Linked DNA regions of Homo sapiens: region 2 is linked to region 1. The links come from fine-mapping of genetic effects on gene expression. A gene starts in region 1. The other region holds a variant in brackets. All regions are shown on one strand. Distances are from middle to middle. Region 1 holds the start of COQ2 (coenzyme Q2, polyprenyltransferase). Region 2 has its middle 29 kb from the start of COQ2.

Region 1 (5,335 bases):
TCCCATCTTAGGGCCCTTGCACTAGACATCCCTCTAAGAGTATCTAGTGATATTCTTCCCTCAGATCTCTCATAGCTACTCCCTTATCTCCTTCAAGTCTTTGAGAAAGTGAGATCAGGGCTGTCCTACCACCCCAATTACCATATTTAAGTATACATACAGCCTGTCCCTACTTTTCCCTGTTACTCTTCTTTTCTCCATACCACTTACCACCTTCGAACATACTGCAAAATCTATTTGATTACCTTTTTCAGTCCTTGTGATGTGGGGAGGGGTTGTCTTGTTTCCAAAGCCTTGTCAGTCATTGTAATTCATTCTTCTGGCCACCATAAAAAAGATGAGAGGTTTATTATTTGTTTTTTTGAGACAGGGTCTCACTCTGTCACCCAGGCTGGAGTGCAGTGGCATGACCATGGCTCACAAAGCCTCAACCTCGGGGGCTCAAGCAATCCTCCCACTTCAGCCTCCCAAGTAGCTGAGACCACAGGCATATGCCATTATTCTCAGCTAATTTTTGAATTTTTAGTAGAGATGAGGTCTCACTATGTTGCCTAGACTGGTCCTGAGTTCCTGGGCTCAAGCAATTCTCTCACCTGGGTCTCTCAAGTGTTGGGATCACAGGTGTGAGCCACAGTGCCTGGCCAGAATAATTTTTGACCAAATGTTTTGGCACTATGGCCTAGCCAAATTGACATGTAAAATTAACCATTTCAGTTCCTGTGGGTAATAGGTTTAAAACAAAATGAGTTCCTGCCCAATCCAAAATGAGGAATTGGCGTTGTGTACATGTACCCTAAAACTTAAAGTATAATAATAATAAAATTTTAAAAAAAAAGAAAGTCACTTCAAAAAAAACAAAAAACAAAATGAGGAATCGGAGCCTTACAGGCCCTTTTAGAGAAAGCCTAGTCCCTTCCTTTTCTGAAGAGTTTGCAGCAGTTAAATGGCTTTCCCAAGGGCATACTGTGCCTTGGCATTAGTCTAGAGGAGACTCCTGAAAGTTAGGGCTCTACTCTATGTGACTGTTCTCTTGTCCTACAAATTAGCAGAGTGACATGTGGGTACCCATCTCAGTTTCCTGTGCACTTTAATTGGACCAAATATCTTAGGATTGAATCACCTCTGGGCAGGGTCAGCATCATGGGTACATGTGCAGTCACCCAGGGCCTACGCTAAGAAGGACCTTGTACTTGGTTTAATGTCCTGCTGTTGCCATCTTGAAATTCTTAATATATTTTTTTAAACAAAGAGTTTGGACCTATATTGGAAAGTCATGGATGCAATACATGACTGATATTACACCCTTTTCAGGTTTGAGTCAGATCTAAATCATCTCCAATCTAACAACTAGGAGTGTTACTAAATTGCCTGCTGGCCTTTATTCTTTGCAGGCAGGAGAAAGGCTAGGTACCCCCTGCCTCATTGCACCAAAGTGGCCAGGCATCCAACTTGCTGTACTTGAGCCATGCAAGAAGTCACAGAATCATTGTACATGTTTTACAGAAAGGAGCCTAAAGACTAAGTCAACTTCCTAGAATATTAAAATCCAGATGAGTGACTTGCCTAGGGTTACTCAGTGAGAGGTTAAATGAGTTGATACATGTAAAGTGCCTGGCACACAGCGATATACAGAGTTGCTTATGAATAAGAGTACTGACCATCTGAGGCAGGAGGATCTCTTTAGCCCAGCTGTTCAAGACCAACCTGGGCAATATAGTGAGACCTCCTCTCTATGAAAAATTAAAAATTAGCCAGCCACGGTGGCTCGTGTCTGTGGTCCCAGATATTTAGAATGCTGAGATGGGAGGATCGATTGAGCCCAAGAGGTGGAGGCTGCAGTGAGCCATGATCCCTCCACTGGTCTCCAGCCTGGATGACAGAGCAAGACTCTGCTGACCAGACTTTTCAGCTTCAGGTTCTTAGCATCACACATGCTGGTTGTCTACTGATTACAAAAACTCCTTTGAAGGGCTGTCAAATTTAAAATTTTCACTTGTGTAATGAACATCCCTTAACCCTGAATGCGATTTTAATTTACAGTCTTGTATGTGGCCACTTGGTGCCCTTTTTTTTTTTTATGGCTAAACGTGTACGCAAATTCTTCTTTTGGATTCAGTAGGTTTTTCAAAGCTTTTTTTTTTTTTTCCTGGTACAACTGTTCCATATGAATAAACACTATCCTTTTCATTTTATGGAGAAAGCTGATAATAGGGTTAAATTATAGGGGGCCATTGTTTTGAACTAAGTTCCTGCACTAGGTCCCAACAGATCAGACTAAGAATCAAGAGTCACCCATGCTAAAGTTCCAAGTCACCAAACTAAAACTAAGTTGTATCTGACATTCTGAGAAGTCAGGAAAGAGAGACAACAGCCAATTTTCCAACCAGGCCATTTCAAAATGCAATCGTCATGACAATTAAGTTTCCTGTTTTAGTCCTTAACCTGGTGTAACCTAATGTTAACCAATCCGTTATTTCTCTGTTGTTGTTTCCCTGTCCCCGCCTCGCAATGAAAGTAATTTGAAGTGACCAATCCGCTTTTTGTTCTCTGCTTCTGCTTTCTTCAGCCCTTTTTCTGTCTATAAAGCCAACTTCCTCCGCTCGACTCTTTGGAACACTTATTCTATTTTACAGAATAAGGTGTTGCCCGATTCTATTTTTTGTTTGTTTCCTCAGAGACCCCGTTCTGAGTGTTGCCCGATAATGGAACCACAAAGTCAATCAAGATCGAGTTGTAAAAAATTACAACTAAATTTATTGTAATTTTTTTGCCTTTTGCCAATAGAAATCCCTTTTTCATTAAGTATTCCTCCCTAGAGTAAGCGACCACGATGACCCCAATTTCACAAGTAAGGATGAGGAAAGGTTCTGCCCACACCGCCGCCCAGCCTGGCAGACTAGGATTGCATCCTGCGGGTGCCACTGCGCATGCCTGCCGGGGAATGACGTCAATCCGAGCTCGTCCCGGCCTCACCAGCGCCATGCTGGGCTCGCGAGCCGCGGGGTTCGCGCGGGGCCTGCGGGCTGTGGCACTGGCGTGGCTGCCGGGCTGGCGGGGCCGCTCCTTCGCCCTGGCGCGTGCGGCAGGCGCGCCCCACGGTGGTGACTTGCAGCCCCCCGCCTGTCCCGAGCCGCGCGGGCGCCAGCTCAGTTTGTCCGCGGCGGCGGTGGTGGACTCTGCGCCCCGCCCCCTGCAGCCGTACTTGCGCCTCATGCGGTTGGACAAGCCCATTGGTGAGTGCGGGCGGGCGGGCAGCCCGGGAATTTGCAAGTAGCAGCCTCCGAGTCGGCTCCGCGGAGCTGTCCGCGGCGGCCGGCCGGGGCGTGATGGAAATGAGAACCTGAAAGCTTGGGCTTGGCTGCCGGGTGCCGTGCGCCCTGGGGCGAATCACCTCGGGACACTTTGAAATGAGAGCCTGAAAGCTTGAGCTTGGCTGCCGGCTGCCGTGCGCCCTGGGGCGAGTCACCTCAGGACACGCAGTCGGGACAGTCTCCTAAAGGACCCGCCAGTTTCACGTCTGTCTGCATCCTGAGCACCTGAAGCGGGCAAGATAATTCTCATTCCACAAACACTTGTTTAAATGGTGACTCAAGCGGAAGGTTCCGTTCTCGTGGCCCTCCTTCATTTATTAGAATGTTTGATCCTCCCCGCAATCTTGTAAGGCCCACAAAGACAATCCTTAAGACAGTTAAGACGCTGAGGAAACTAAGGCTCCTCGTCAGAGCCAGACCAGAAGAACTCTGTGTTTTGATGCTGAGTCGGAGCTCTTTTACCTGCATCACCCATAAGGCAAAGATTTAATTCATTTGAACGCAGCAGGGACAGCGCTTACGGACTGCCTGTCAGCTTACAATCGCCCCCGACAGAAAGATTTTCCTGACCTTCCTATCTTAATTAACACCTACCAACCTCACTTTCTATCGCTTTATCCGCAATTTTTCTTAATAGCACTCACCACTAACTAACCTTATGCGCTTGTTGATTGATTGGCTTCTCCAGTAGTGTTAAGTGAATTAATAAGTTCCTACTACGTTGTCCGGCCATAGAGATAGAAAAAGCTATGGAAACCCTTTGCTTTCAAGGAACTCTGGTCTAGTTGAAAAAGACTATTTGGTGAGCTAGGAAAATATGGATCAAATATGAGTGATACAAAAGCAAGTGCTACAGGAAAAAGAGAAATTACTGTGGATCCCTTGCTGGAAAGTTTCGAGAAGAAATTATACTCCAAAGGACAAGTTGATTTTGCAGAGGAGGGAAGAGATCTTAGTGCGGGAAGTACTTTTGCAAAGACCCAAGGGTGGAGTGTTAGAACACTAAGAATACGAGCCTGACCTGGAACACCAAGTGGGTGTGGAAAATGGGAAACGAGACTAGACAAGAACATATCTGAAGAAGCTGGATAGCGTGGAGGAAGAAGTGAAGGATGAACTCCAGCCAATCTAGATGATGACATTTGCCATTGCAGTGTATGGAGATGTAGTCAAAGGCCTAGGTACATTTACTCCACTTTTGCCCGTACAAGACCCGAATTAGGCCTTGCTTTTGGTATTCTAGATTTATGCACGACCTATTTGGGATTAGAGCACTAAGTTATAACAATCAGCTATCAAAGCATAAAAGCCTACTGAATGATAGGTACAGCCCTGCCATCATTGGGAAGCTGTGTATGACCCCCATGAGTTTTGGGGCCACATTCACGTTGAGAGGCATGCATTTCCAAGCCCAGTTCCAATCTGAAGCCTGGCTGTAATTCTGTTCTTGGAGTCTGTGGCATGGAGTGGCAGTGTAGCCTTATAGATGAACATCTGCCATTATTCCCATTTCCCCAGTTAAACCTCTGGCTTCTATCTTAGTGGCTGGACCTTCCGCCATGTAACAGAAGGCAACAAAGGGGTTATGAGCAAAACTTTGGAGCCAAACCTCTTGGATGTGAACCTCCACCCTGCTCATCTGAGGGACCTTGGATAAATTACTTCACCTCTCTGGGCATCCGTTTTTCATCTGTAAAATGAAGATACTATTAATGATAATATGGACGTTATGAGGTCACGAAAATTCATTAATATATGTTAAGTGCTTAGAACAGTGCCTGTCATAATATGTGCTGAAGAAATAGCCATTATTATCTTAGAAGTGGGGAATGGAGAAAATTGTACTTACAGATTGTGTATGTTTGGAAGATACCAGCCTGCATGGTTTGGTTCTAAATAAGGTGATCATTACAGGATTTTTCAGAAAACTAAATAGTACTATGTTAGAATTCGCTCAACAAATGTATTTTGAACCCCTACCATATGCCAGAAACAATAATTGACAGGAGTAGAATTCCAGGTTT
Region 2 (5,382 bases), 29 kb after region 1:
AGGATTGTCACAGAGCCCAAGTTGAAAACTATCTCTTAGAGATAAGAATGAACATTGGAGTCCCTACAGTTACTAACTGAATGACTTAGAGTGAACTATTTAAACCTCTCCAGCCTATCTCTTTATATCTAAAATGGGAATTAAAATAATATCTACCTCATGCTGGTGTTTTAAGAATTGCATGAGAAAATGATCTCATCTAAACTCCTGACTTTAAATGTCATCTGTATACTGATTATTCCCAAATGTGTACCTCCAGCCTAAACTTCCCTTTTGAACTTGCACTTGGCAGAATTGAATATTGAACTGCCTACTTGATATTTCAACATGAATGCCAAATAGGCACCTCCAGTTCAATATGTTCAAAACTGAACTCCTGATCTCAGCCTCAAACCTCCTCCTCCCACCCTTCTTGCCATCTCATTAATGGCATCTCCTTTTCCTTTTGCTCTGACCAAAACCTTGGAATCAACCATGACTCCTTTTTCCCACATTCCATATTCAAGACATTAGAAAAGCATATTGGTTCTACCTTCAAAATACATGCAGAATCTAATCTTTTCCTACCACCTCCACAGCTGCCACCCTGGCCCAAGTCCCTATCTTCTCCCCGCTGGATTAACACATTAGCCTCCTCACTGGTCTCCCTCCTTCTCCCTTGCCCCCTTTCATGTGTCCTCACCATAGCAGCCAGGCCGATCCTGCTACAACCAAAGCCAGCGTATGTCATTCCTCTAACTCAGAACCTCCCCATACCTCCCCATTTCTCCCAGTGTAAAGCCAAAGTCCTTAGCATGGCTGAAGGACCCTCAGTGAGCGGGCTCCTGCTGCCTTCTGGCTCTTCTTCCACTCCCTCCCTCGCCAGTGCTGCTGCAGGCCTTCTGCCGCTGCAGCCTTCTGGCCTCGTTGGGGTTCCTGGAATGCTTTCCTAGATGTTGCCATGGATACTTCCTCACCTCCTTCAGTATTTGCCCAAAAGTCACCGATTCAGTGAAACCATTGTCTTCATTTTCTAAGACTTAACACACACCATTACACAAACTTCTTTTTCTCTCTCACTGCTTTTTCTCCATATTAAAACATATGATATACAGTCATATGTCACTTACAGATGGAGATACTTTCTGAGAAATGCATCATTAGCCAATTTCATCCCTGTGCAGACATTATAGAGTTCATGTACACAAACCTAGATTGTCTAGCCTACTACACACCTAGGCTATGTGGTATATAGTCTATTGCCCCTAGGCTACAAACCTGCGTAGCATACTGTACTTCATGCTGTAGGTAATTGTAACACAATGGTAAGTATTTGTGAATCTAAACATATTTAAACACAGAAAAGGGCTAGGTGTGGTGGCTCACACCTGTAATCCCACCACTTTGGGAGGCCAGGGCAGGAGGATCACTTGAACCCAGAAGTTCAAGACCAGCCCAGGCAACATGACTAAACCCCATCTCTACAAAAAATACAAAAATTAGCCGGGTGTGGTGGCACATAGCTGTAGTCCCAGCTACTTGGGAGGCTGAAGTGGGAGGATTACTTGAACACAAGAGGTAGAGGCTGCAGTGATCGCGCCACTGCACTCCAGTTTGGGCAACAGAGTGAGAACTTGTCTAAAAAAAAAAAAAAAGAAAGAAACACAGAAAAGGTACAGTGAAAATACAATATAATCTTATGGAACCATTGTCCTATATGTGGTCCATCATTGACTATAACATTGCTGTGTAGCACATGACTGTAATTTGTTTTACTTATTTTCTTTGTTGTGTGTCCTCACTAACAAGAACCTAACTTCATGAGGGCACAGATATTTTCTGTTTGAATCATCATACTTTATTTCCAGTGTCTGGAATACTGCCTAGCACATAGTAAATTCTTAAAAAATATTTGTAGAATGAATCACGTATATAAAGCTTTTAACAGCACAGTATGTGATTCATTGCCTTCAGGCATTTTTAGCACTCTTTTTCTTCTCCAAAGGATTTATCTTTCCAGAAACCATCTATGAGGAACTGTTCACTTAAGAGGAAGCTGAGGCCGGGCACGGTGGCTCACGCCTGTAATCTCAGCACTTTGGGAGGCTGAGGCGGGCGGATCACGAGGTCAGGAGATCGAGACCATCCTGGCTAACATGATGAAACCCCGTCTCTAGTAAAAATACAAAAATTAGCCGGGCGTGGTGGCAGTCTCCTGTAGTCCCAGCTACTCGGGAGGCTGAGGCAGGAGAATGGCATGAACCCGGGAGGCAGAGCTTGCAGTGAGCCGAGATGGCGCCACTGAACTCCAGCCGGGGTGACAGAGTGAGACTCCATCTCAAAAAAAAAAAAAAAAAGAGGAAGCTGATTTTTCAGATTCTATTTCAGGAGAACAATTTTAACATTCAGTTTCTAAGCCTGAGTTTTTTAAATGGTGTTAGTTTAGAGGGGTGGGGGAAAGGTGGGGACAAAAAGTGGAGAATTTGTAAAAATTATAGATGAATTTTAAAAGGGATATCCCACTGGCTACAGTGGCTCAGACCTGTGTCAAAAAAATAAAAAATAAGGCCAGGCACAGTGGCTCAGGCCTGTAATCCCAGCACTTTGGGAGGC[C/T]GAGGCTGGTGGATCACCTGAGGTCAGGAGGTCAAGACCAGCCTGGCCAACATGGTGAAACCCCGTGTCCTAAAAATACAAAACAGCCTGGCATTATGGCAGGTGCCTATAATCCCAGCTACTTGGGAGGCTGAGGCAGGAGAATCGCTTGAACCCAGGAGACAGAGGTTGCAGTGAGCCAAGATCACGCCACTGCATTTCAGCCTAGGGGACAGAGCAAGACTCTGTCTCAAAAAAAAAAATATTTAAAATATATATATATATATCTAGGGATATCCTACCCATTAACGAAGTATAAATTCATGTAAAGAAATGGAAAGTAATGCATGCAAATGTTAACTAGATTTATATTTGTTTATCTCGTTTAAAACTCTTCAACAATCTTGAAAATTCAAGTTAGTAATTTTTTTCTTAGGCAGCATTGGCATAGTAACAAACTGAAATAATCATGGCTTTTACTTGCTTTATACTTAAGCAGTAGAAATGTCAACACAGCATCTGGGAAAGAATTATTGGGATCAGAGGTCATGTCCCATTGCAGGAATGCCTCATAAACATAAATTGCTTTCAGTTTACATCATTTCCTTGAAGAGAGGAAAGTGTTAAAGACATTTTAACACTTTAGAATCTGCAGGAAGTTTATGGCTCTGATCAATATTTTTTAAATACTGCTAAAAATACACACTAAATATTTTATTTTATTTTATTTTATTTTTGAGACAGAGTCTCACTGTCACCCAGGCTGGAGTGCAGTGGCATGATCTCAGCTCACTGCAACCTCTGCCTCCAGGGTTCAAGCGATTCTCGTGTCTCAGCCTCCCAAGTATCTGGGATTACAGGCGCATGCAACCATGCCTGGCTAATTTTTTATTTTTAGTAGAGGCAGGGTTTCACCATGTTGGCCAGGCTGGTCTCGAACTTCTGACCTCAGGAAACCTGCCTTCCTCGGCCTCCCAAAGTGCTGGGATTACAGGCATGAACCACCGTGCCTGGCCAAAATACACACTGAGTATTTTAAACAAATCCACTTAAAAACATGTTACAAATCAAAAAGTTTTTAGCACAGATCAATTAATTACTAATTGAAAATTGTTAAGATCTCTGAAACATGGAAGAATGTAAGGAAAGGGATACAATTTTATAATTTTTTCTCATTCATGTATTCATGTTTCTGATTTTCTTCATTCTGTTTTTAGCTGGTCTTTATGTGTGCATAGATAGGCTCTGCTTTAAAATAAAATGTGAATGGAAGTTACACACATGAACGTTTTTCAAGAAGTTGGAACAGCAAGTGCATAAGCCTTGACATGGGGATGAATGAAGCAGATTCGGGTAACAAGAAGGCCAGATTTCTAGTCTTGTTTCCATAGTCCACAGCCATCCCATATTATAGCAAGTGGTAGTGAAGATGTAGAGTAACTGGAACTCTTATACATTGCTGGTAGAAATGCAAAATGGTTTTGTCACTTTGGAAAACAGTTTGGCAATTTCTTTTTTTTTTTTTTTTTTTTTAAGTCAGAGTCTTGCTCTGTCACCCAGGCTTGAATGCAGTGGCGTGATCTCAGCTCACTGCAACCTCCACCTCCCAACCTCCCAGGTTCAAGCGATTCTTCTGCCTCAGCCTCCCAAGTAGCTGGGACCACCCACCCCAAACTCCTCAAGTGATTTGCCCACCTCGGCCTCCCAAAGTGCTGAGATTACAGCCATGAGCCACCGCACCCGGCCTGGTTTGGCAATTTCTTATCATTGACTATGCACTGAGTATAAGACCCAGCAAAATCACTCCTAGGTATTTACCCATGAGGAAAGAAAACTTACGTTCACATAAAAACCTGTCCATGAATGTTAATAATAGCTTGATTCATTATAATCCCAAATTGGAAAAAAAAAAAGCTTTAATGTCCTTCAGCTGGTGAAAGAATAAACAAACTACGGTACATATATAATGAAATACTATACGACAATAAAGAGGAACAGACAACTGATATATGTAGCAAAATGCATGAATCTCAAATGCATTATGCTAGGTGAAGGAAGGCAAACCCAAAAAACTATATACTACATGATTCCATTTGTGTGATAATCTGAAAAAAGCAAAACTGTAAGTACAGAAAACAGACCAGTGGCTGCCAGGGACTGGAGGTCAGAGGAGTATCTGACTACAAAAGGGAAGGAGGAGATTTCGGAGGATGATGGAACTGTTCTATATCTTGATTGCAATGGTTTGACATAGTTATAGGCATTTGCCAAAACTCTTAGGATTGTACCCACACACAAAAGGTGAATTTTACTGTATGCTAACTATACCACAATTTTTAAAAAGTGAACAAAAGTCATTTTTACCAAGTTAGGGTGAGAATAATCAGAATTATATTGTTGCCATCCTAATTAAGTTAGGGGCTAAATTTTCATTGCTGTAGATATGCCTGCATATGGAGTTGTGTTCTGGAAAAACCAACTCTTTTCTGAAACCTACAGCCCTTCACTTAATCAATATTTATCAAGTACCTATTATATGCCATACACTATTCTAGGTTCTGAGGATACCTCAGTGAACAAGACATATCCCTACCCTCCTAGAACTTGCATTTTAATAAGTGAGTAACTCTGTAGGTAAATAAGTGCATAGGCTACTTTAAATAATATAATGTAGTGGTAAGTTGTTATAAAGAAAACTAAAGCCTGGTGAAAGAGAGTTATGGGGAAAGGAGGCTATTTTTGATAGAGTACTAAGGAAGGATTTCCAAGTGACAGTTGAACAGAGGTTTAATTGATGTGATGGAGCTATGT

The links. PIP is the estimated chance that this variant, and not a neighbour inherited with it, causes the effect.
Region 2: its variant is fine-mapped to the expression of COQ2 in whole blood (INTERVAL, PIP 0.97).

What each region holds. Positions count from the first base shown.
Region 1 is chr4:83,282,410-83,287,744 of GRCh38, reverse strand. It overlaps COQ2 (coenzyme Q2, polyprenyltransferase), which reads left to right and starts at 2,947. Exons shown (of 7, transcript NM_001358921.2): 1 at 2,947-3,233. The coding sequence starts at 2,981. RefSeq lists enhancers at 2,815-3,109, 3,305-3,544 and a silencer at 2,915-3,244.
Region 2 is chr4:83,253,519-83,258,900 of GRCh38, reverse strand. No RefSeq gene overlaps it. Among named protein-coding and RNA genes, the nearest start is that of COQ2, 29 kb to the left of the region's middle. The variant C/T (reference allele first, on the strand shown) is at 2,593.